Regions from separate parts of the Homo sapiens genome. Here all the other regions are reported to be linked to region 2. Evidence: microRNA targets listed by miRTarBase, many of them from high-throughput screens and not tested one by one. Region 2 holds a microRNA gene; each other region holds the end of a gene's coding sequence.

Evidence for each region. Region 2 holds the annotated microRNA hsa-miR-4436b-3p (CAGGGCAGGAAGAAGUGGACAA, at 2,824-2,845, opposite strand). A microRNA usually pairs through its seed, bases 2 to 8, with sites in the 3' UTR of a target mRNA and lowers its output. Matches are read on the target gene's strand: a 7mer-m8 pairs with bases 2 to 8, a 7mer-A1 pairs with bases 2 to 7 and ends in A, and an 8mer does both.
Region 1: the mRNA of BCL2L12 is a reported target of hsa-miR-4436b-3p. Seed matches in the 3' UTR shown: 7mer-m8 at 3,303-3,309 and 7mer-A1 at 3,242-3,248.
Region 3: the mRNA of DRG1 is a reported target of hsa-miR-4436b-3p. The part of its 3' UTR that is shown has no 7-base or 8-base seed match.
Region 4: the mRNA of SLC25A22 is a reported target of hsa-miR-4436b-3p. Seed matches in the 3' UTR shown: 7mer-m8 at 3,102-3,108, 7mer-m8 at 2,829-2,835 and 7mer-m8 at 2,425-2,431.
Region 5: the mRNA of BCL7B is a reported target of hsa-miR-4436b-3p. Seed matches in the 3' UTR shown: 7mer-m8 at 856-862.
Region 6: the mRNA of ZNF614 is a reported target of hsa-miR-4436b-3p. Seed matches in the 3' UTR shown: 7mer-A1 at 3,321-3,327 and 7mer-m8 at 2,509-2,515.

The regions. Positions count from the first base shown.
Region 1 is chr19:49,673,013-49,677,098 of GRCh38, reverse strand. It overlaps BCL2L12 (BCL2 like 12), which reads right to left. Exons shown (of 7, transcript NM_138639.2): 7 at 3,183-3,401. The coding sequence ends at 3,351. It also overlaps a transcript of PRMT1 not described here. Among named protein-coding and RNA genes, the nearest start is that of PRMT1, 2.2 kb to the left of the region's middle. RefSeq lists enhancers at 1-189, 194-343.
Region 2 is chr2:110,083,620-110,087,705 of GRCh38, forward strand. MIR4436B1 (microRNA 4436b-1) reads right to left here and starts at 2,904; the gene lies at 2,814-2,904. MALL (mal, T cell differentiation protein like) reads right to left here. Exons shown (of 4, transcript NM_005434.5): 3 at 3,953-4,078; 4 at 251-2,138. The coding sequence ends at 2,076.
Region 3 is chr22:31,433,224-31,437,309 of GRCh38, forward strand. DRG1 (developmentally regulated GTP binding protein 1) reads left to right here. Exons shown (of 9, transcript NM_004147.4): 9 at 649-1,229. The coding sequence ends at 748. It also overlaps a transcript of EIF4ENIF1 not described here. Among named protein-coding and RNA genes, the nearest start is that of DRG1, 36 kb to the left of the region's middle.
Region 4 is chr11:788,546-792,620 of GRCh38, forward strand. It overlaps SLC25A22 (solute carrier family 25 member 22), which reads right to left. Exons shown (of 10, transcript NM_001191061.2): 7 at 4,008-4,075; 8 at 3,759-3,913; 9 at 3,597-3,672; 10 at 1,930-3,523. The coding sequence ends at 3,370. It overlaps CEND1 (cell cycle exit and neuronal differentiation 1), which reads right to left and starts at 1,545. Exons shown (of 2, transcript NM_016564.4): 1 at 1,485-1,545; 2 at 1-113. The coding sequence starts at 31. RefSeq lists a silencer at 1,456-1,685.
Region 5 is chr7:73,533,441-73,537,526 of GRCh38, reverse strand. BCL7B (BAF chromatin remodeling complex subunit BCL7B) reads left to right here. Exons shown (of 6, transcript NM_001707.4): 6 at 137-1,171. The coding sequence ends at 229. Among named protein-coding and RNA genes, the nearest start is that of BAZ1B, 13 kb to the right of the region's middle.
Region 6 is chr19:52,012,353-52,016,421 of GRCh38, forward strand. ZNF614 (zinc finger protein 614) reads right to left here. Exons shown (of 5, transcript NM_025040.4): 5 at 972-4,069. The coding sequence ends at 3,488. The region is part of intron 1 of LOC124904755 (a long non-coding RNA gene); the gene reads left to right. Among named protein-coding and RNA genes, the nearest start is that of ZNF615, 6.2 kb to the left of the region's middle.

The DNA of each region.
Region 1 (4,086 bases), not on the chromosome of region 2:
TCATAGGTCAGGGGTTTGCCAACTCTGGCGTCCAGAATCCCGCCCCCTCAAGTCGACCCGGGATGGGGAAAACTGCCCGTCTATTGCAAGAAGCGCGACTGGTGATTGGGCAAAATCCACCAGGAATGCCCTCCCCTTTACACCCAGCACCGCCTCAAAGCTTCCCGGGGAGCCCCGCGCTAAAGGGGCGTCTTGAAACACCTGTCCATCACCAAAACGACCCGCCTCCTAATCGCTGCCATTGGTTTATCCGGAAGCGACGTCACGCAGCCTTTGGCCCACCCTCGCCAAGCGGCCGGCCTCAAGGAGAACACGGCAATTGGCCCACGGGTAGGGAAGAAGGCGGGGCTTCAGGCACCAACGATTGGCTCAAAGGAATTATCACTCCTCGTCCACTCGGTGGATCCTCCCAACCCGGGGGGAGTCTGGAGGAAAAAGGGAGCTTGTGCTCATTACCTGGGGGAAAAACGGAATCGGTGAGAGGCCCAGAGAGAGGAAGGGCATAGCTGGGGTCCCGAAGCAAGTGAGGAATAGGAGTCCGTCGTCAACACATTAAATCCCTAGCCCTTGACATAATCATTCCAAGTTTTTTAAAACCATCAACCCCTCTCAAGCCACTTGGTTTTTGCCAAGTCCCTCCCCCTGCCAGGAACGCCCACCTCTCTTTGTCTGGTCAGCTTCTAAACGTGAATCAGAGCACAGCTTAGGCACCACTTCCTCCGGGAAGCTTTCCTTGATTTGCAGAAAAAGTTCCTAGTTGAATGAAGCTGAATGCAAAGGGCCGAATGCGTGGGTCCTGCCCCTCCTCTCCCCGATCCCTCTACTTCCCTCTGCTCACACTTCTCTCCAATCCCGGAATGAGCTCGCTCTTTGGTTTCTGGGCCTCCGCGCAGGCTATACTCTCTGGCGTGCCGCTGGCAAACGCCTGAGACTTAAAATTTACAATAGGGTTCGGGCGCGATGGCTCACGGGTGTAATTCCAGCACTTTAGGAGGCGGAGGCAGGCGGATCACTTGACATCAGGAGTTCGAGACCAGTCTGGGCAACATGGTGAAACCCCCATTTCTATTAAAAATACAAAAATTACGCCAGGCGGCCGGGCGCGGTGGCTCACGCCTGTAATCCCAGCATTTTGGGAGACCGAGGCGGGCGGATCACAAGGTCAGGAGGTCGAGACCATCCTGGCTAACATGGTGAAACCCCCGTCTCTACTAAAAATACAAAAAATTAGCCGGGCGTGGAGGCTTAGGCAGGAGGATGGCGTGAACCCGGGAGGCGGAGCTTGCAGTGAGCTGAGATCGCGCCACTGCACTCCAGCCTGGGTGACAGAGCGAGACTCTTGTCTCAAAAAAAAAAAAAAAAAAAATTTGGCCGGGCGCGGTGACTCACGCCTGTAATCCCAGCATTTTGGAAGGCTGAGGTGGGCGGATCACAAGCTCAGGAGTTCGAGACCAGCCTAGCCAATATGGTGAAACCCCCGTCTCTACTAAAAAAACAAAAATTAGCCGGGTGTGGTGGTGGGCGCCTGTAGTCCCAGCTGCTCCAGAGGCTGAGGCAGGAGAATCACGTGAACCCGGGAGGCAGAGGTTGCAGTGAGCTGAGATGGTGCCACTGCACTCCAGCCTAGGCGACACAGCGAGACTCCATCTCAAAAAATAATAAAATAAATAAAAATAAAAATAAAAAAATTAGCCAGGACTGGTGGCACACGCCTGTAATCCCAGCTACTTGGGAGGCTGAGGCAGGAGAATCGCTTGAGCTCAGGAGGTGGAGGTTGCAGTGAGCCAGGATGAAGCCATTGCACTCCAGCTCGAGCGACAGACCGAGACTCTAACTTTAAAAAAAAAAAAAAAAATTGAAAAGCATGGCACTAAACAAACCAAGAAAAGGACATTTGTTTCCAGTGTTTGAGCTGAAGCAAGAGGAGCCCAGCTGCAAATATGCACATCAGGTCTTTAGCTTGTTGCAGCTCTGTGCATAAGCATTGCCCTCCAAAACACCACAAAAGCACTGCCTTAATTTTTGGGGTATGAATACATTGTAGCAAGGATGCAAATTTGCAAATAATCTACAAATACTGAGGATCAACTGTAATTGGTTCGGTTTGTAATCCTGTACATTTCACTTATTAATTTACAAACATTACTCTGTGAAGGGGGATATGGCCCTATAAAGGAGACAAACCGCCCAGGCACAGTGACTCATGCCTGTGATCCCAGGACTTTGGGATGCCAAGGTAGGAGGATCACTTGAGCCCAGGAGGTGGAGACCAGCCTGGGCAACATAAGGGAGACCCCATTTCTACAATTTTTTTTTTTTTGAGACGGAGTCTCGCTCTGTTGCCCAGGCTGGAGTGCAGTGGCGTGATCTCAACTCACTGCAACCTCTTGCCTCCCGGGTTCAAGCGAGTCTCGTGCCTCAGCCACCCAAGTAGCTGGGATTACAGGCACCCACCACCATGCCCGGCTAATTTTTGTATTTTTAGTAGAGATGGGGTTTCACCATGTTGGCCTGGCTGGTCTTGAACTCCTGACCTCAAGTGATCCACCTGCCTTGGCCTCCCATAAAAATTCTTTTTTAAAAATTAGCTAGGCGTCGTGTCGCATGCCTTTAGTTCCAGCTACTAGAGAGGCTGAAGTGGGAGGATCACTTGAGCCCAGGAGGTTGAGGCTGCAGTGAGCCATGATAGTGCCACTGTATCTATATAACAGTGCAAGTATAGGCAACAGAGCAAGACCCTATCTCCAAAAAAAAAGGGAGAGTGGGGGGTGTGTGTGAGACAAACCACTGGTCTGTAGGTAGATGAGAAACCAGCAAGAGAGACTTGAAAGGAGCAATGGGAGGAGAAAAACAAGAAGAGGGTGGTGTCCTAGACACAGGTGAAGTTAGACTGTACCTTTCTGTGGAATTCACTGGAAAGACTCCATGACCATCATACAGCATTAGCTAGAATAACCAGATCGTGCAATAGGAAAAAAAAATGCAAGTTGCTGGAATATTTACAGGTATTCTCTCAAATATGTTACATGTCCAGGAGACAGGCTCTTGTAGGTGCTGCAAATAAATATTTCTAGAATGAATGAACTGGTTCTTTCCTCAATTTGCGTAAGCCACAGAAATCTCTGAACCAAATCTCCTCTCCTTAAAACTTTAGTTCCCAAGTGTAAGAACAGACAATTGAATACTTTGTAACGTTTTTAATAAGAAAAGTTTTAAACAATTTATTTTTGGCAAAAACAGGTAGGGCAACCACCACCCCACAGCCCTGAGTGGAATAGGAAGACTTGGAAAAGCACACGAAGAGGGCAGGGACATGAGGTGTCATCTTGTAGCAGCTTCTGAGAAAGAGCTCAGTCCAATGGCAAGTTCAAGTCCACGGGTGAAACAGCCAGGATGCCCTCCTGGAAGGGAAAAGTGGCAGAGCCCTGTGAGCAGGGCAGGTGTTCCCCCCATACAGCAGCGTCCACATCAGCCCTGTGAGATTAGAGACGGGAAGGCGAGGAACCAGAGAGCGGAGGGTGACAGACACCCAGACAAGGGGACAGAGACCCAGACAGAAGGGCACAGGGATGAGGGGGCAGGGTCCTAGCAGGAGGAGGAAAGGTTGAGCTCGAGGAGGGTCAGGACACTGGAGTGGGATTAGACAGAGATCCAGAGAGAGTGAAGAGTTGGGGGACAGAGTCAGAGATGGGGAAGAGAGTCTTGGGATTTGAACAATTCAGAGTCGTGGCTTTGTGTACAAATCCAGATTCCAACACTCTGCATGCTGGGGACTTTTCCTCTCTGCCCCCACAAGACGAGGACAATAAGAGCCCCATGAGGTTGTAGTGGGTTTAAATGGGATCATTCCATTGAAATCCCTAGCAGAGGACCTGGCCCACCGAGAAAACTCATCTGCTATCAATCCTACTTTAAAAAAATTTTTTAAGAAATTGTCCAGGCGTGGTAGCTCAGCCTGTAATTCCAGCACTTTGGGAGGCCGAGGTGGGTGGATCACTTGAGGCCAAGAGTTCGAGACCAGCCTGGCCAACAGGGCAAAACCCCGTCTCTGCTAAAACTACAAAATTAGCCGGACATGGTGGTGTG
Region 2 (4,086 bases):
TTGGTTTCCGGAACTTGCACCCAAACTGTCCTTACTGAAGTACAAATGACATTATAAACCCGAAGCCCTGGAGACAAATGTGACCTCCCTTCGCTCTTGCTCTAGAAGCAAGGCCGGGTGGGCTGGGATCCCACCCTCAGAGAACTTAGGTTGTGAAATGCTCCAAGGGGTGCTTTTCTTGAAATTACTGACAACACCTAGTACCTGATGGCCAGTTCCAGATGCTAACAAGATGAAGTCGACCAACTGCTCCTTTTTACCAAACAACTTTTATTTGCATGTGGCTACTTAGTAAATAGTAATCAGTGATCATCCTAGACAGCTGCCAGGCAACAAAAGGAGAGACACATAGAAGCTTTTCAAGGTATCAGGTTGCAAAAAAAAAAAAAAAAAAAAAAGTATCAGAGTGATCAGAAAGTGAGCAGTGAGCAGTAGTGAAGCCAGAATTTTCTTTCCCATGACTCCTGTAGTTCTGTCCCTGTCCCCGCAAACCCCAGGAGGGGAAAAATGTAGATACAAAACTGTAAGGCCTCAAACCAGTTAGGACAAGTCCCTTTCTCGTAATAATTTATTTCATTCCCAATGACAGAAGGCACGTGCAGTTACAGGGCTGTGCCCTATTCGTCTGGGTCAACAGAAGAGCACAGCTTTCTTTAGAAAAACATTTACTTTAAAACCAAGCACCTTGATTTGATATTTTAGTGTGCACAACTTTGCCCGTTGAGGTCCTGGTGAGCCCTTGCCCAACCCCGTGGGCACCACCATTCCGCCAGGCCTCGGAGGGCCACCGGGTGCTTAAGAGAATGTGAGGGGGGTGAGTGCAGGTGGCGCAGCGCGGTTCCTGGGACATGGGTCCTTCACTCCTCGCTGAGATGTTGCGGCAGCCTTTTCTTCCAATGCGGTTGTGGCAGGAGAATCCACGGATGTAATGTTTTCACCTTTTTCCCTGAGGGTGCTTTCTGAGGAACCAGTCCTTAAGAGGTGGGGTCTTGGATTCCTGACCCAGGCGTCCGGCAGCTGCTCAGTTTCCGAGATGTCAGACTCATGGAGGAGCAGGCTATGCCCTTCCCTCCCCATTCCCCACCCCTCAAGCCCCAGGTCTTACTGTATAATGATTTATTTTCCCCACACGTCTACCCTCAAAATTGGCTTCATGCAAATTTCCCTTGAATCCTAATGCTGGAGAGGAAAGGGGAGGGGAAGTGGGAGGGTGGTGGGCAGGGTGGCTTGACCCTGTCAGCCTCCCAGGGAACTCGGGACCACGGCTCCCCAGCACAGGCTGAACAAGTACCAGGAACAAGGTCTATGCATCTGCGTTAGATCTGAAGGCCTTGGCAGCACCTCTTCAATTTTAAGAGAATCAGGCCGGGCGCGGTGGCTCACGCCTGTAATCCCAGCACTTTGGGAGGCCGAGGCGGGCGGATCACGAGGTCAGGAGATCGAGACCATCCTGGCTAATACGGTGAAACCCCATCTCTACTAAAAATACAACTAAATTAGCCGGGCACGGTGGTGGGCGCCTGTAGTCCCGGCTACTCGGGAGGCTGAGGCAGGAGAATGGCGGGAACCCGGGAGGCGGAGCCTGCAGTGAGTGGAGATCGCGTCACTGCACTCCAGCCTTGGAGGAAGAGCGAGACTCCGTCTCAAAAAAAACAAAATAAAACAAACAAAAAAAAGATCAGACTGAGTATTCCCCTAGACCTACTCTAGGGAAGCCCATAGCTGAGGCAAAATCCCCAAACAGACTTGGCATTAGTGGGGCTAGGATTCTCCATTAGTGGAGTGAGGGCTTTGATGTGAGTTGTCTAGAAGAGCAAGTTCATGGTCAGATAATTCCAAGAGACAGTTGTTTTCCCAGGAAAAAGAAAAGCTTCCTCCTATTCAGCAGAGTGAATTTAAATGTCCAAACAAAGTGTGGTGTCATCGCTCAGTCTGCAAGGACGTTCTGTTAATCCCGTGGACGTTTTAGTGGATCTTCCGTTTGTCATCCAGATGGCAAACGTTGGAAGCTGCTTTTGGGGACCAATAATTGGAGCTTTCAAAGAGCATTTCCCCCTTGGCCTGGCGCCTGTGCATCAGTGGTAATAGATGCTGAAGGCATGGAGAATGTAGAGCAGCGTGGCGATGAAGGCGAAGAACTGGAAGGAGGTGGAGAGTGACTGTTAGAGACAGCAGCGCCAGCTCCTGCCCACCCCTCAGGTACCCTCAGCCCCACTGCCCAGGAGGCCACGCATGACCCTGCCTCCTCGCCTCCTGCGTGGCCTGAGGGCAGCAACCCCTGGCCAACAACTCCCTCTTCTGGAAACTCTCCATCAGGGCCTCCCTGGGGCCGTCCTGGTGTCCTGCCCCGACTGCAGTCTCCACCTCATCTGCACCTGGCTGTGAAGCAGGCTCACCTCCACCACAGCTCTGGGCCCATATCCCACGCTGACCTCCTGCCCGAGGCCCGCTCTCCTCTGCCCACCTCCAGCAAATCTGTGTTCTGAACACTCCTACAGCTCCCCTCGCTGGCCCAGAACTCTGCCCTGAGCGGCTGCTTATCAGCTCCTCGTGAATGTTCAGACATCCTCCAGCTCTTCCTGGCTCACACTGAGCCCCTGACGTTTCCTCACAAGCCTGACAAGCCCAGTGGGCCCCAGGGTCCTCCTCTCGCCCCACTCCCTGAGCCTGACCCCTGTGGCCCCTGGCTCCTCCTGCCTCCCTTGCCAGCCATATGCAAAGCCACCCCAAAGGCTACTGATTTCCCTGCCTAGCTCTTGGGACATTCATTTTTCCCTTGTCTCAGCCACCGGCATCCCTCGGCAGGACTCCTCATGGCCTCACTTGTCCACTTCTTCCTGCCCTGCCCCTCGAATCTGCTCCACCATTTGGGCAGGGCAGGCAGAAGTGGACAAGTGAGGACACTTCTCACTCATGGGGAGAACACAATCCCGTTGCCCCACGTTGAAGCTGTATGATGGCTCTGCTCTTTTCTCAGGGTAGGGCCGTCACCTTCAATACCTTTCAGGCCCTGCCAAACATCCCAGCCCCACTCTGCCCCACTGTCCACTCACACGCTCCTCATTCAGTCAGTCAGTCAACAAATATCTTTTAAGGACCTGCTTTCCTTCAAGAGCAACTGTGGGTATAACAGTGAAGAAAATATTCAAAAATTCCTGCCCTCATGGAGCTTACATTTGAGAGATAAGAAGCAGATAGCAGCAAGATAGATGAGTAGCACATACATGGGTTAGATGGAGGTAAATGCCACCCACTGTGGAGTGCACTGTGACCCTCTGGGGTGGCCACAAGATATTTCAGCTGCCTTCTGGCCTGTCTGCCTCCCTTCCCTCCTCATCAGGTGAGTTTAACTTCCTAAACTTGCAAGACCAGCAACGGCCCCTGCAATCCTCCATGGCCAGCTGTCCCAGCTACACCACCCTCCTGGCTGCCCTTGAGCACACAGAGGGTCCTTGGCAGGGGTAACTGCCTGGTGGGACCTTAGCAGGGGTAACTGCCTGGTGGCCCCTGCCTCCTTCTGTCCTCTTGACAGGGCCTTCCCTGATGCCTCCTCCCCTGAGACCTCGACATTCCACTTTCCCCTTCCCTGCTTCATCTCTCAATAGTTCAGCCATGCCGAGGGATGCGGGCCCCATTCCAAAGGCAGTGGGTGCCATTGAAGGATTTTCAGTAGGAGAGAGACATCTGTTCCAATTTGTGTTTTGGAAAAAGAAAATTCTGCAGACAGCGTGGGGGGTGTCTAAGAGAGAGGAAAGCTGGAGTGGGAACAATAGAAGGTAAAAGAGGACCCCTGAACGTGGGTGCACATGTTTACAGGGACACACATCCCTATCCCCTGCCCCCATGGCTCCTTCCACTTGAGGGCTCAGGGTCTATACAGCACAAGCAAAGTTAGGCCTCCTGCACGAAACATCCTCCAGGCAAGACTGCTGTCCTTGGCCAGCCCACTCACCGAGGCTGCCGAATTAATGTAGTAAATTCTTGGGTCCAGCAGTTTCTCAGAAACAATCGTGGCATGTACTTGTAGGACGGCAGCGCTCATGTACAGGATGCCAGTGGTCCCGTGGTACAGGCTGTCCTGGAAAT
Region 3 (4,086 bases), not on the chromosome of region 2:
AATCAGTCTGAAATTTTCAGGGTATTTCTCTATGAAGATTAAAGACGGATTTTTTTTTTTTTTTTTGAGGCGGAGTTTCGCTCGTTGCCCAACCTGGAGTGCAACGGCATGATCTTGGCTCACTGCAACCTCCGCCTCCCGGGTTCAAGCCATTCTTCTGCCTCAGCCTCCCGAGTAGTTGGGATTACAGGCACCCGCCACCATGCCCAGCTAATTTTTGTATTTTTAGTGGAGACGGGGTTTCACCATGTTGGCCAGGCTTTTCTTGAACGCCTGATCTCAGGTGATCCGCACCCTTCGGCCTCCCAAAGTGGTGGGATTACAGGCATGAGCCCCTGCGCCCGGCCCAGAGTATTTCTCTATAACAAATCCATGCTTTCTTTTAATTTTAAACTAGGCTCTTTATACTAAACATGTTTTTTGTCTTTGACTTTCTGCAATAAGAGGAACCACACAACTTCCAGAAGTCTTTACCGGCTTTTATGTTAAGGCTTCAGTGTCTCATGCTGCTAGGGAAGATAAAGCTTTTGTAGGTCTATGGTTCTTAAGGGTATGATACTAAATCTGAGCAGAAGGGTGGCATCCAGGCAAATAGGGCAGAAGCTAGGTTATTATTTACACTGACTGTTCTTTTTCCCTTCCATGCAGTGCTCTGGTCTGGGGTCTCTCTGTGAAACACAATCCTCAGAAAGTGGGTAAAGACCATACGTTGGAGGATGAGGATGTCATTCAAATTGTGAAGAAGTGAAACCTTTCCCTTTTCCCATCTGCCGGACGAACCACAACAGCGTTCCCCATGATCAAGCACCCTACCCCAGTTCTTTCTGGTTTTGGCAGTCACTGGATCAGGATCCAGGGGAGGGAGATGGAGGCACCCAAACTGGAACTTCATTTGTCTTACCTTGGTGTCACCTTGTATGTCGAACTGCATAAAAGATCTGGTAGGCTGGTCAGCTACATGCAGCTCATGTGTCATTGTCAGAATTTGTTTTGGGATGGGCTGAATGAGGAAGGGTATATACGGTGAAGCAGCTACAGAAGGGATCCTTGGGAACTTCATCTTGAGTGTGAAATGGATAAAAATATGACATGCTGCATCTTACTTGATGTTTACTTATGGGAACCCCTTCCAAACTAGATATGGCTTTCAGTCCTTTCAAGTAGTCTTTCCCACATGATACTGGAGAGAGGAAGGACTTTATGTAAGTTAATTGATCACTCCCCGCAAGGCTAACCTATTTTGGGAGATCATGTAATTAAGTACTCCGACCAGGCAGATCAGGGTTTGAAATTGCAGGTCCACCTCTAGTTAGCTGTGGAGCCCTGAACAAATTACCCAACCTTTATGAGCCTCAGTTTCCTCATGTAACATGGGGATAGTAATAGCACTTACTTTCTGCGGTGGTGATTGTTAGTAATGGAGGGAGATGGTACTTATATGTCAAATACTGTGCTAAGCAATTTGTAAGTACTCAATGACTCTTGGCTTTTGTTGCACCGAGCCTTTTACTGGGCTGTCTGCCCTATGCAGAGCACAGCTGTACATCATCAGTGTTGGGTTGAATGTTGAGCTGAACTATGTTGCCACCTGGGCCACTAAAATGCTTTTTTCTTTTTCTTTTTCTTTTTTTTTTTTTGAGATGGAGTTTCGCTCTTGCTGCCCAGGCTGGAGTGCAATGGCATGATCTCGGCTCACCGCAACCTCCGCCTCCCGGGTTCAAGCGATTCTCCTGTGTCAGCCTCCTGATTAGCTGGGATTACAGGCAGGTACCACCATGCCCCGCTAATTTTGTATTTTTAGTAGAGATGGGGTTTCTCCATGTTGGTCAGGCTGGTCTTGAATTCCTGACCTCAGGTGATCCGCCTGCCTCAGCCTCCCAGAGTGCTGGGATTACAGGTGTGAGCCACCGTGCCCGGCCAACTAAATGCCTTCTTTCCCATAACCCAGACTTTCTGCTTGAATCCCCATGAAAGTCCTGGCTTCAGCCAATAACTTGGGCGAAGGTGCATTGCAAGTGAGGCAACTGGTGTGATCAAAGCAGGTTTGTGTGTTCACATATGTGTATATATGGAGGTGGGCGGTTTAGGAGGAGGCTTGGTGTCAGGACTACTTGAGAGGATGCTAAGGACATAATCAGATATTTGGGGGACTAGGAATATAGGAATTTAAGGGGATTGCTCTGATTATGTGAAACTGGTTGATGAAAATCTTGGTGTGGTGGGTAACAATATGGACGGAGGGGGCTGGGCCCAGTAGCTCACACCTGTAATCCCAGCACTTTGGGAGGTCAAGGCAGGAAGATCGCCTGAGCTCAGGAGTTCGAGACCAGCCTGGACAACATAGCGAGGCCCAATCTCTACAAAAAAATTTAAAAAATTAGGTGGGCATGGTGGTGCATGCCTGCAGTCCCAGCTGTTCGGGAGGCTGAGGTGAGGACTGCTTGAGCCTGGGAGGTCCAGGCTGCAGTGAGCTAAGATGGGCCACTGCACTCCAGCCTGGGTGACAGAGTGAGACCCTGTCTCCAAGAAATAAAAATTAAATAATTAAAGAATATGGGCAGAAGGGAGGGTATGGACATGTAAGTATGGGGGAGAAATCTTAAACTTGTTAACTAACTTGCTCTTGGGAAGAAGTCAAACATTATTTCAGTATGGATGGAGTAGTCCCTGAGAAAATCAGGAAGAATAGGTTTGCAGCAAGACAGAATTTGATTATTTCTTCAAATGAGGCAAGCCAGAGCTTTTAGCAGGTCATGAGTGATCACAGTGTGGGATTATTCACATACTCAGCCTCTCTCCAGTGCTTGTTTCTCCTGCTGCCCTAATAGCAGTTGTTTCCCTTTGATAGTCTTCCTGGAGCTTGGGCTTGTCACTGTCCCCAGACCTGGAAGGTAAGCTCCTGAAGCCTGGTATGCTAGTTACTTTTCAGAATATCGGCCTTGATACCACTGGTGCATTCATGATAGAGGCCGTGGTCTAGAGCCTGCCCCAACCCTGCAGGGGAACAGGGAAACATTGGCTTTCTGAGCTACGGGATTTCCAGGAAGGTTTGTTCTCCAGCCAGAACATATTGGGTTTCTGGGGACTCTTCTTGCCAAAATTCACTTTCATTGAGCAAGCATTTAGCACTGCCAGAATGTTGGGGAGAGAAGGTTGCTGAAATCCAGTTCATCCTAAGGCCTCAGGATGTTCTGTGAATAGGCTTTGTGTCCATCATTTAGCACCCTCCCCATGGCTTGGTCCAGGGACCCCTGGTCTCCTTGAGGAGAGAATTACCCTACCTTTCCCTTTCTCCTCTGGGCTTAGACTTAGCAGTTCTGGGAGAGGGGTATGTTTGGTATTGGGAATGCTGCCTAGGGTATGGCCACTGTGGAGGTACAGCTAAAGGCTTTCTCCTCATTAACTCTAAGACTTTACTGGTTTGGCTGTCATAGCATGATTTGAATTTCCTGTGCTTTTACATATTCCATGTTTCTTTCCTGACTTTATTACAAGTAAACAGATCCATTGTTCTGTGCCATTTAACTAGTTAGAACACGTTTAGCTGCATTTAGCAGAAAGTGCTAACTTAAGCGGCTGAAATGGAAGGGAACTTGGTCTTACCTTTTTGGGAAGCTGTTTTCCAGAAGCCACCCAGTTTGTTGTCTCGTGGCCTAAAATTGGGTCACATGTCTATTTTTGAATCAATTGTTGGTAAAGGGAATAGAATTATTGAAGAACCAGAATTTAACCCTGTAAGTTATCGTCATTCTTGGTTTGTGTTTATGCTCATAGTTCACAAAGGCCAATGGACCTCCCACTTCCCTTCCCTGTTAATAGAGTCTGGCTTAAAAGACACTCAGTAGCTATCTCCTAGGGGAAGGCCTAGCTGCACTCTCTGTTCACTTCATTCCCACTTCCTTTTACCACTGACCTCCCACAGACTTATTTAACTGCTTCCTTTGGGAGGGACTATTCTTTCCTCTCCTACCTGACCTCCCCTGCTTAACAGATTTTCCATGATATGCTTTGTGGTCCTCAGCTGTTTTACTTTCAGGATGCCTTCTATATCCTCAGCTTCTCTTAACTTTTATTTTGCACATCCTT
Region 4 (4,075 bases), not on the chromosome of region 2:
GGCTGCTGGCTGACTTCCCTCTGGACTCCATGGTGGGCGGGGCGTATGGGACAGGCAGGTGGCTGCACCAGAGGGGCTCAGGACAGTTTGTCGCCCCTGGGCATTCTATGGGCCTGGAGGGAGACACAAGGGAGGCTGCGCGCGGGTCCAGTCCCCCCTGTGCTGCCCCGACCACCTGGTCCCCAGGCAGCCCCTGCCCAGTTCTCTGGACTCTCTGGAGCCCCAGCTCAGGGGCCTCCCGTGGGCCTCTGACACTTCTCTTTCACGGCCTGGACTCCATCTGTCCATGACCACTCCTCAAGGGGCCCCTCCAGCCGCAGAGGCAAGGGCCACGCACAGGTGGGAGGAGGTAGGGGACCCCACTGTGCTCCATAAAATGGCCCATGCAAATGCCACATCCTCCCACCAGCCGGGGGCAGGAGGCTCTTGGTGGGGAAGTAAGGATCAGGCCCAGAGAACTCGAAGGAAGAGCATTCTCCCCTCCAAGGAGGTGATCGGAGCCCCAGTGGGAGAGCTGACTGCATCCCCTCCTCAGGAGAGCATTCCTGCTTTGCAGAGATGGACACTAAAGCACGGAGGCTGTGACCTGGCCAGGGTCCCAGGGGGAGGAGGGCGGGGAGGGGCAGGAGCTGGGATCTCAGGCAGCCATCAGGGTGGGTGGGCCCACAAGAACCCAGACTTGAGAAAACTGGGGTGTCTCTCCAGGAAGTCAGCGTGGGGCTGTGCTTCCAAGGGCCGTCTGCCCCTCCCCAGCCTCTGGGGCCCCCTCCTCAGCATGGGCCGTGCCTGCCTCCAGCCCTGGAGCAGGGAGTCCTCGCCCAGCCCAAGGCTGTGCTGTCTCTGTGGGCAGAGGGTTCCTGGCGTTAAACAGGGTGGGCACATGCTGCACTTGGCCCGCGGGTCAGGGCGGAGGACAGGGTTCTGGGCTGTGGGAAAGGCGGTGCCCAGATTCTCAATGACCGAGGCAGAGGTGGGAAGGGCCCTGGGGGCCCAGCCGCCCTGAACCTGAGTGGGTCTTGCCCCAAAGCCCCAGAGGCCGCCTGTCTGCCTCTCCCAGGGAAGGATGAGAAATGCCCTCCAGACCTGCAGAGAAAGGGAGGCACGTTCCCCACCCCCCGCCAGGTGCATTGACCACACTGAAGGTCACCCGAAGGTCACAGCATGATGAGGGCGTCTCCAGAAGAGGCCCAGCTGCTGCCACCTCCCAGGGAAGCCCAGCCGTCCCTTCACCCCTGCAGTTCTCGGGGGGCTCAGCTGCTGGGCATCAAGTTTGCAAAGAGCAGGTGGTCTGCCCCCCCAACCTCGCTATTTGTGGCACTTACATCCCGGCCGCCGCCTCCCTCTCCCGGGATCAACTGAGCCCTGGAGAACTGGGGGGCCCGCGCGCAAACCCAGTGACCTTCAAGGCCCGGAGCCGCCTCCTCGCCCCGCAGGACGCCGCGCCCGCCCCGCCCGCCCCGCCCGCCGGGAGCCCCCCGCCTTACGCGTCCTCCGGCCTCCCCGGGGCTGCGCGCTCCTCCGCGGGATGACGGCGGCTGCGAACGCGGAGGAGAGCTCGGGAGTTTCCCACAATGCACTGCTCCCGGCGCAGGAGGGCGGGGAGGGGGAGGGGCGACCGGGCCCCGCCCCGCCGGGAACCGTGGGATCCGCAAACCCAGCTCCGCCTTAGATCCAGGGGTAGAAACTTAGGGTCCGAGAGAGCAACTGCGGGGTCCAAGTCCCATCTGGGACTGCCAGAGGCAGGAGGCGGGTCCCGCTCAGCATCCCCTCTAGGCCAGGGTGCCCCTTGGTCGGTGGGTGACGGGTCGGTGGGTGAGGGGTCGGTGGGTGGGTGCGCAGGCCTAGCCCTGCAGTCTGAAGGGAGCCAGTTATGGGAAGAGGGGACTGCCCTCCCCCGCCCCCAAACAGACCCCCAGACAGACAGCAGCATCTACTTAGAATATTTATTTATTCTCTGACATGACAAGACACAAAAAGTTACAACTTCTTAAAACTCTTCAAAAGAAAAAAATATAATTCTGTAAGCAGCAGCAGCAGCTTCCAAGGTTCTGATGTGACGGGAGGGGCAGCTCCCAGGAGCAACCGTGAACTGGGGGGGTCCAGGCCTGAGCCCCAGGTAGTGTCGCTGGGAAGGGGCCTCTGTGGAGGGCCCCGGTTTTGGGGACACAGCACCAGCACATCAGGGTCTGTCACCAACACGATCACATGGCCAGGGCGGGGCAGGGAGAGCTTCGGCTCACAGCAGGGATCGCCCGGTGGCAGGGGGGATGGGGCTTCTGAAGTGTGGTCAGGGGCCTTATGCCCGGAGGCGGGAAGGATGGGGCTTCTGCAGTGTACCCAGGGGCCTTATGCAGAGGCTGAAAAAGGAGGGTGGGCCCTGAGAGGACTTGGGGGTGTGGCAGCTCCTGGCCCTCCCTCCAGAGCAGGGCAGGCACCCTCAGGCTCCACACTGGTCCCAATGCCCGCCCTGCTCCCTGGCCAATCCCAGGCCAGGGTGGAGGACTCAGGAGAGACCAAGCTGGGTAAGTTAGTTCCTGGACGGGGTCAACAGAGCCTGGGGCACACACAGCACACAGAGCGCCTGGCCACGGCGGGAAGGGGGGCAGTCCCCAGCAGCCCCATCCCCAAGGGCCAGGCCAGATCCCCACAACACACACACGCATGCACACACACATACACACACACATGCACACAGACCTCACAATCTGGGCCCCAGCCTGGGGTGGGAGCTGAGGAGCCCACCAGAAAGTCCCACAGTGGGTGGCGGGCTTGCCCCAAGAGTCAGACCTCAGGGCAACCCCTCACTTGGGATTCCTGGCTCAACAGAGAGGGCAGGAGACCCCAGTCCTCTTGCAAGGCTGGCCAGGGAGGCAGAGTCAAGTCCTGCCAAGGCGACAAGAGCGGCTGGGGAAGGACGGAAGGGCTGGAGAGCCGCTTGGGTCCAGCAGATTCAATAAATAGGTTTGTGTGGGGTGCCTGTGTGGGCCAGGATGGCTGTGGAGACTGGAGCTGGTGGACTGGGGGTATGGTCCAGCCTGCCCGGCCCAGGCCCGGGGGCCCCCAGCCCAGAGACCAGCTCTGTCCCTGGGGGTGTTCAGGCCAGGGCAGGATTGGGGCAGGGGCTAGCTTGAGGAATGTAAAGATTTCTGCATTTTCTACATAAATGAGACATTGATCCCAACGGTGCAGGCAGCACCCCGGGGGGCTTGCGTGTGCACCACCTATGTGGACCCTGCACCCTGCCCCCTGCTGCCCCTGCCGACGGGAGGGCTGGGGAGGGGTCTTCCCTTGCTCCGTCCTGGGCTAGCTGCCTGGCTCCAGCCCCACACCGGCCCTGCCCAGCTGGCTGGGGTGGAGCGGGTGCTGGGCTCAGGCCTGGGGGTCCTGCAGCAGCCCCAGCAGGGACTCCGCGATGCCCAGGAAGTAGACCACCTGTGCGATGCCGAAAAGGGGCGCGATGACCAGCGCGCGGCAGTAGGCGCCCTTCAGGAAGGCCGAGGGGCCCTCGTGCCGCAGGATCTTCCTGTGGAGGAAGGACGAAAGGGTCAGCCCGGTACGCAGGCCCCCAGGCCCCACCCGCCGTGGGACCTCCCCACCTGGCACAGTCCAGGATCCCAGAGTAGGTGTCCTCGTTGACGCCTCGCTGAAGTGACTGGAGCCGCGTCTTCACCACTGCAAGGGGCGCTCGGGTCAGTGTGAGCCTGGCCAAGGGCTCAGTCCCGCCCCATCCCCAGCCGGGCGCCATCCCATGCACTGACCATCACAGGGGTTGACGGCCACAGCGGCGGCACTCCCAGCCACACAGCCGGCCAGGAAGGACACGTAGAAAGGCGACTTCTCCTCGGACGCCGGGCGGCCCAGCTGGTTCAGGTTGGCAAAGAGCGGGAAGTACACCACAGAGAAGGGGACATCCCTGTGGGGAGGGAGGTGGCCGTGGGGACAGGAGGTGGTGGGGTGGGCAGGCCGGCCTCCCCCTTCCCTCCCCCCACCTGCCCTGTGCCTCCTACCTGAGCAGCGTGGCCCCGAGTCCCTTGTAGAGACCGGCAATGCCACGGCTCCGCAGCAGGTCGCGGGT
Region 5 (4,086 bases), not on the chromosome of region 2:
CAGGGTTGTAGGCAGGGGAGGATGTTTGATCATCTGCTGGAAGGAGCAGAGTGGACATCCCATTATAATTCGGGTGGGTGGGAAGGTTCTGGTTGGGAGGGGTGGCCCTGGCATTCCATGCTCTGCCTGCTCCTAGGTCGTTGAGGAAGAGGAAGACTCAGGTGCCCCGCCCCTGAAGCGCTTCTGTGTGGACCAACCCACAGTGCCGCAGACGGCGTCAGAAAGCTAGCACCATCCCGGCCCTCCGCCTCCTGGCCCTGCCTCTATTTATTGCATTCTGGTTCTGGCCGCGCCGCGTTGCTGGGGTAAGGGCAAGCACTGGGGTCAAGAGCCTGCACACATGAGCCTTCCGGGCTGGAAGGCTGGCGTAGGACTTGGGGCTGTAGCATCATCTTCCTGACCCTGGCACCTGTGTCTACTTGCTCCCGAGAAGAGGAGCGCTCATGTCTTTTTTGCACCCCAAGTTGGCTGGAGCATCGGCCACCCCAAGATTCATCTGTGACCTCCAGGCAGCAGTCTCTGCTCCAGAATCTCTGGACGGAGCTGCTGGCAGCTTCTGCGAGAAGAGAGAGATGTGGAAGGCACCTTCTAGAAGAGAGCGTGCCTCAGGTTACTTGAACTTGAACGGAGACTGTAGACTCCCGGACTTTCCCCTAGGACTGGGGGCCCTGTAGGCTGCTGTTGGAGGACTGGGTAGAGACATTGGAGGGAAGGGAAGGGCTTTTCTCCACACAAGGGCAGAGAGTCCGTCTAGATTTCTTGCTGTCCTGCCAGCTCTGCCCATGCCTGAGGTGGTCCTACCTCTCACGGGCACCCTAGCTGCTGACAGCCCTTTGTGGCCGCCGTCCCCATCCCCTGCCCTCAGCACACACATCTGCACACACGCAGCTTTGTTCTCACCTCTACCTGTCATTCCAGCATCCCTGCCTCTTGTCACAAACTGCCCCAGCAAGAATTTGAGGTTCTGACAACAGTACCCATCCCCCACAGTACCCCTTCAGCTCAGTTTCTAGAAAGCTCCCTTTTCTTTGAAATCTGCATGTTGAATTGAACTTTGTGATTTTATTTTTTGTTTCAAAAAAGTTTAAGAAAATGGAAATGGGCAACAGTGAGTGAAGACATATTTTAGCACTGAATAGAATATTTTTAAAATTAAACTATTTGAAATATGTCCTGTTGGTATCTGAGTGCTTCCTTCTTGAAGGTTGCGGGCCGGGGTGGGGGTGGTGGCTGAGTGCTTGTGGGGTCACTGTGGGCTGGGCCTGCCCATCCTTTCACTCCCACAGTGTGGACTTCATGACAGTGATTTCTAGCCTCCCTTTGAAGCTGTCACGTAGTTCAAATTATGCTTCTCGCTGGGCGTGGTGGCTCATACTTCTTATCCCAGCACTTTGGGAGGCCGAGGCAGGAGGATCACTTGAGGCTAGGAGTTTGAGACCAGCCTGGGCAACACAGCAAGACCCTATCTCTATCTAAACAATATTTTTAAATTAAAACATAAAAACCAGGCCAGGCGCAGTGGCTCCCGCCTGTAATCTTAGCACTTTGGGAGGCTGAGGTGGGTGGATCATCTGAGCTCAGGAGTTCAAGACCAGCCTGACCAGCAAAATGAGACCCCATCTCTACTAAAAATACAAAAATTAGCCAGGCATGGTGGCAGGCGCCTTTAGTCCCAGCTACTTGGGAGGCTGAGACGAGCATTGCTCGAACCTGGGAGGTGGAGGTTGCAGTGAGCCAAGACTGCGCCACTGCGCTCCAGCCTGGGTGACGGAGCGAGACTCCATCTCAAAAAACAAAACCAAATTCCATCCCTGTGTACACCAAATGCAGCCCATGGATGTGTTTTCCACAGGTCCATGTAGTTCGGAGGGATTCATGAGTTCTTTTTTTCCCCCCTTGTGGTAAAATACACGTAACATAAAAGGTTTTTGTTTGTTTGTTTTTTGAGACAGAGTCTCACTCTGTCACCCAGCAGGCTGGAGTACAGTGGTGTGTTCTCAACTCACTGCAACCTCTGCCTCCCAAGTAGCTGGGATTACAGACGTGCACCACCACGTCTGACTAATTTTTGTAATTTTAGTAGAGGTGGGGTTTCACCATGTTGGCCAGGCTGGTTTCGAACCCCTTAGGCTCCCAAAGTGCTGGGATTACATGTGTGAGCCACTGCACCTGGCCAAGAGTTACTTTTGTCACCATTGTGAAGTGTGCATTTCAGTGGTACTGAGTACTGAGTACATTCACAGTGCTGGGCAGTCCTCACAGTCCAGCTCCGAACTTTTTTATTATCCCAAATGGAAACCTCATGTCCAGTTAGCATCATTCACCATTTCTTCCCCTCCCCTCGGGCCCTGGCAGCCACAGATCTGTTTATTTCCCGGAGTGATTCCCCTCATTTCTCACAGGGGCTCCAGGTGTCATGGATGAGACTATAATACAAGTTCTACTGTTCTATGTTTTGTTTTTGTTTTTTTTGAGACGGAGTCTCGCTCTGTCACCCAGGCTGGCAGTGGCGGGATCTCGGCTCACCGCAAGCTCCGCCACCCGGGTTCACACCATTCTCCTGCCTCAGCCTCCCGAGTAGCTGGGACTACAGGCGCCTGCCACCACGCCCAGCTAATTTTTTGTATTTTTAGTAGAGACGGGGTTTCACTGTGTTAGCCAGGATGGTCTCGATCTCCTGACCTCATGATCTGCCCGCCTCGGCCTCCCAAAGTGCTGTGATTACAGGCATGAGCCACCGCACCCGGCCCCTGTTTTATCTTTTCTTACAAAATATAAATAGGGCTGGGGCTGGGCACGGTGGCTCACGCCTGTAATCCCAGCTACTCGGGAGGCTGAGGCAAGAGAATGGTGTGAACCCAGGAGGCGGAGCTTGCGGTGAGCTGAGATCACGCCACTGCACTCCAGCCTGGGCGACAGAGCAAGACTCCATCTCAAAATATATATATATATATAAATATTTTTATATATATAGGGCTGGGCACAGTGGCCTGTAATCCCAGCACTTTGGAAGGCTAAGGCAGGAAGATTGCCTGAGCCTGGGAGTTAAGACGAGCCTGGGCAACATGGCAAGACCCTGTCTCATTAACAAATACAAAAATGTAGGCCGGGCGTGGTGGCTCACACCTGTAATCCCAGCACTTTGGGAGGCTGAGGCGGGCGGATCACGAGGTCATGAGTTCGAGATCAGCCTGACCAGCGTGGTGAAACCCCCATCTCTACCAAAGATACAAAAAATTAGCCGGGCGTTCTGGCACATGTCTGTAATCCCAGCTACTTGGGAGGCTGAGGTACAAGAATCTCTTGAACCTGGGAGGCGGAGGTTGCAGGGAGCCCGATTGCGCCATTACACTCCAGCCCGGGCGACAGGGTGAAACTCTGTCTCTAAAAAAATAAGTAATAATCTTTTAAAAATGTAACAGCCAGGTACAGTGGCTCATGCCTGTAATCCCAGCACTTTGGGAAGATCGCTTGAGCCCAGAAGTTCGAGACCAGCCTGGGCAACATGGTGAAACCTCATCTCTAAAACAAAAACAAAAATTAGCTGGGCATGTTGGTGCATGCCTGTAGCATCCCCTGCTCGACGGCTGAGGTGGGCGGATCTCTTGAGCCCAGGAGGTCAAGGCTGTCGTGAGCCGTGATCATGACACTGCACTCTAGCCTGGGCGACAGAGGGAGTCTCAAAAAAAGAGACATATAAAATCAAATTGTCAAATGAATTTTACAGATAATGTGATTGTATGTGGTACACAAAATACGTATTTTTTTTCTGAGACAGAGTGTTCTCTGTCACCCAGGCTAGAGTGCAGTGGCGTGATCTTGGCTCACTGCAACCTCCGCCTCCCAGGTTCAAGCAATTCTCCTGCCTCGGCCTCCTGAGTAGCCGGGATAACAGGTGCCTGCCACTGTGCCTGGCTAATTTTTGTATTTTTAGTACAGACGACGTTTCACCACCTTAGCCAGGCTGTTCTCGAACTCCCAATCTCGTTATCCACCCACCTCAGCCTCCCAAAGTGCTGGGATTACAGTCGTGAGCCACTGCGCTTGACCCTTTTTTTTTTTGTAAAGACAAGGTCTCACTATGTT
Region 6 (4,069 bases), not on the chromosome of region 2:
AAAAAAAAAAAGCCAGGCATGAGGGTGCACACACATAGTCCCACCTACATGGGAGGCTGACGCAGGAGGAACACTTGAACCCAGGAGTTTGAGGCTGCAGTGAGCTATAATCGCACCACTGCACTCCAGCCTAGGCAACAGAGACTCTTTTTTTTGTTGTTTTTGTTTGTTTTTCAGACAGAGCCTATTCCGTTGCCCAGGCCTGGAGTGCAGTGGCAGGATCTCAGCTCACTGCAACCTCTGCCTCCCAGGTTCAAGTGATTCCTGCCTCAGCCTCACAAGTAATTGGGATTACAGGCGCCAACTGTAGAGCGCCCGATCCTGTCACTGTTTGGGGCGCCACTACGTAACCCACAAGGACCTAGGGGGACTGAAAAAAGTGGGGGAAACGGGAATAAAAGAGACAAAAGAGTATATTTGGAAGAAGGGATCAGGGGACACCTTGCCTCTAGTGGACAAGGGCCCTGAGCTTTACACAGCCCTCCATATTTATTAGGCAAAAGAGATAGTGAGAAGGCGGGTGGAAGAAGGGGTCAGCTACTCAGTCCAGAGTAGGGTTTGCAAGATGGCATTCTCTAGATGTCCCAGTAGATAACCTCAAGGAGCTCAGCACCAGGAAGCGATTGCCCTCAGCAAACCTTCTGGCAGCGGAAGCAGTCATGAGTTTGCCCACATCGTGCATTCATGATAAAGTTTGCTGTTTGATCATATAGCCTCCAGTGGAATGCTGAGTTGGTCACATCCCATGGGCCTTCGGCTCCCAACAGCCCAGCACCATACCCAGCTAATTTTTTGTGTGTATTTTTAGTAGACACAGGGTTTCGCCACGTTGGCCAGGCTGGTCTTGAACTTCTGACCTCAAGTGATCCGCCTGCCTCGGCCTCTCAAGAGACCCTGTCTCTTAAAAAAGAAAAAAAAGAGGTTAAGATTGTAAATCCTAAAAAAAAAAAAGCAAAAGCAAAAGCTGTATGTAGATTTCACAGCATCTTTATTTATAGCACTTAAAACCAGGAAAACAGTGCAAATATATCTCATAGGTGAATGGATAAACTACTACATCAAATATGTATACTACTCTCAAATATAAACAACTTTCATCTGGTTAGATACATGGTGGTAAAAAAAAATAATAAAACAACTATTCATCAACTCATATAAACCTTAGGAGTAATTTGCTGAGTGACAAAAATGCCAAAAGCTTACATACTCTCTATCAATAAAAATTCATATAACTTATTTATATAAAATTTATAAAAACCATTTACAAAAACAATTTTATTTTTATCATATTCATGAAATGATGAAATTATACTGATAGGAGAAAAGTGGTTGGCAGAGTTAGGTTTGGATGGAGTGTAAGCATAAAAAGGTAGCATGAGGGACTTTGTGTTCATTAGTTTTATGTGGTTGCAGTGGTTACACGAATCTGTACATGTAATACAACTTCTTAGAGTACAAACTAAAAAAGAAAAAAACATGTAAAAATTCGTCAAATCCAAAATAAGATTAGTACTTTATAGTATCCTACCAATGTTGTTTTTCTGGTTTTGATAATTATGGTTATATAGGATATTTTTACTAGAAATTGGTTGAAGGATACTAGCAAAGCCTCTAGACTGCTTTTGCAATTTCGAGTTCAAATTTATTTAAGTTGAAGGTGGTTTTATAAACTGATCATCTCTATAATCTTAGTTAAGCAAGTCCAAATATGTTGTTAATATATTTAACATATTCAGTTTCTTTTCTACTTAAGTTTGCTTAATGTACAATTAAGCTCAGAGCCAAAGAAAGGAAAAGAGCTAATCATAATATGGGGTGGTTGTTCTGGAGTATTTTCTGACACAAATAAATTCTCTAATTCTCCCACACCAATTGGGTGTTCTACAATTCAATTCTGAACAACTGGGTGTTCTATAATTCAATTCTGACACTAACTTCTCCAAGTTAGTGCAGACTCCACAAGTTAGTGCAGTCCAAGTTAGTGCAGTGCAAGTTAGTTAGTGCAGTCTAAATTAGTGCAGACTCCACAAGTTAAGGGGCTCAGTCCAAGACTTCCCCCACATCAGATGCCACTCACAAGGACAACCTGCAGTTCTGAATGGTGATAAATTCCGAGTTCCCACTGCCCTACTCAGGTTTGATAATTTGCTACAGGGCTCACAAAACTCAAGAAAACAGCGTACTTTGTTTTACTGGTTATAAAGGACGCAAATGAACACTCAAATGAAGAGGTACATAGAGTAAAGCCTAAAAAGGGTTCTCCTAATCTCAGGAGCCTCTACCCCTATGAAGTTGGGGGTGCACCACCCTCTTGGGCTATTTGGAGTTCTCTTAATCTCATTGTCTAATCTAATCTCCAGCACCCCTCCCCTTCCAGGAGGTGGGAGAAATGGGGCACAAAGTCTCCATCCTCTAGTTACTTGATCTTCCTAGAGAACAGCCCCATTCTGAGGCTGTCTAGGGGAGCAACCATAAGTCACTTCAGTAGTATAATCAGGTGTAATTAAAAGGGCAGTGCTATGAATAACAACAACAGCAAAAACAAAACAAAACCAAAAAACTCTTATCACTCATGAAATTCTAAGCGTTTTAGGAGCTCTATGCCAGGAACCAGGAACAAAGACCAAATGTATTTCTCATTATACCACAATTTTACACAACAGTAAAAATAAACAGTAATGAGACAGTATATTATGGAATCATTGGCAAGGCAACTAGAAATGAGGATTAAGGTATCCTGACTGAAAATGCACACCAGGTGTATTAGCTGATGTTTAAGGTTATACTTATTAAGAAAAAGCACTCAAATATTCATCATTTTCACCACATTTCATGCCTTCATGAGCTGTTGATAGTTTGCTAAAGGTGTTCCACATTTATTTGATAGCATGTTCGGAACAATTTTACTTTCTATGTGATCTCCTGACAAATGATGAAGCAGAGTGCGTCGCTGAAATCCTGCCATCAATACTGTCACCTTAAAGTTATTTTCCAGTGTAAACTTTGACACTCACTGAGGTCATATTTCTGAGTAAAGACTTTGTCATGGTCATCATGTTTCTATCAACAATAAGCTCACTTACGTTGAAATCTATGATGAAACCTGATAATAAAGTCTATCTTTCCACAGAAGACTTTTCTTAGTCTTTGTATTCACAGAATTTATCTCTGTATACTTTTCAGACATATGAGCAGAAATTATTGCTCAAAACATCTCCACATTAATATAGTTTATTCAACGTATTTTCATTGACAGAAAATATGAGGTAAAAGACCACTAAAGGCACTACCTTATTTACTGTATTCATCAAATTGATCTCTAGGGCAAATTATTTCACCTCCTGAGGACAGACACACATCTGTCAACAGGCAGCACCATGTTTATGTTCCAATTGGCTAGAAACACACTGATGTTTAATGAAGTCTGAGTTGCCACAAAAGGCATTTCCATAGTCACGGCACTAGTAGGGTTTTCTTCTGCATGAGTTCACTTATAAGGAAGGAGCTGTGACTCTCCATTACAGGAGTTTTCAACTTGACTGATTCTACCCATTTCTCTTGTGTGCATTTTCTTATGTTTGACAAGGTTTGATAAGTGGGAGAAGGCTTTCTCACAATCACTGCATCCATACGGCCTCTCTCCTGTATGCGTTCTTTGATGTACATTGAGTACTGACTTTGTGGTGAAGGCTTTTCCACATTCATTGCACTCATAAGGTTTCTCTCCTGTGTGAATTCTCTGATGGGTAATGAGGCCATATTTGTGTGAATAGGATTTTCCGCACTCGGTACATACAAAGGGAGTCTTTCCTGTATGACATCTCTCATGTTGTATGAGGCATATTTTCTGGCTGAAGGCTTTACCACATTCATTGCATTCATAGGGTTTTTCTCCTGTATGAGTTCGCTGATGTATAATAAGAGTGCGCTTTGTGGTGAAGCCTTTACCACATTCATTGCATATGTAAGATTTCTCTCCTGTATGAGTTCGCTGATGTATAACGAGAGTGCGTTTGACAGTGAAGCCTTTTCCACATTCGCTGCATATGTAAGATTTTTCTCCTGTGTG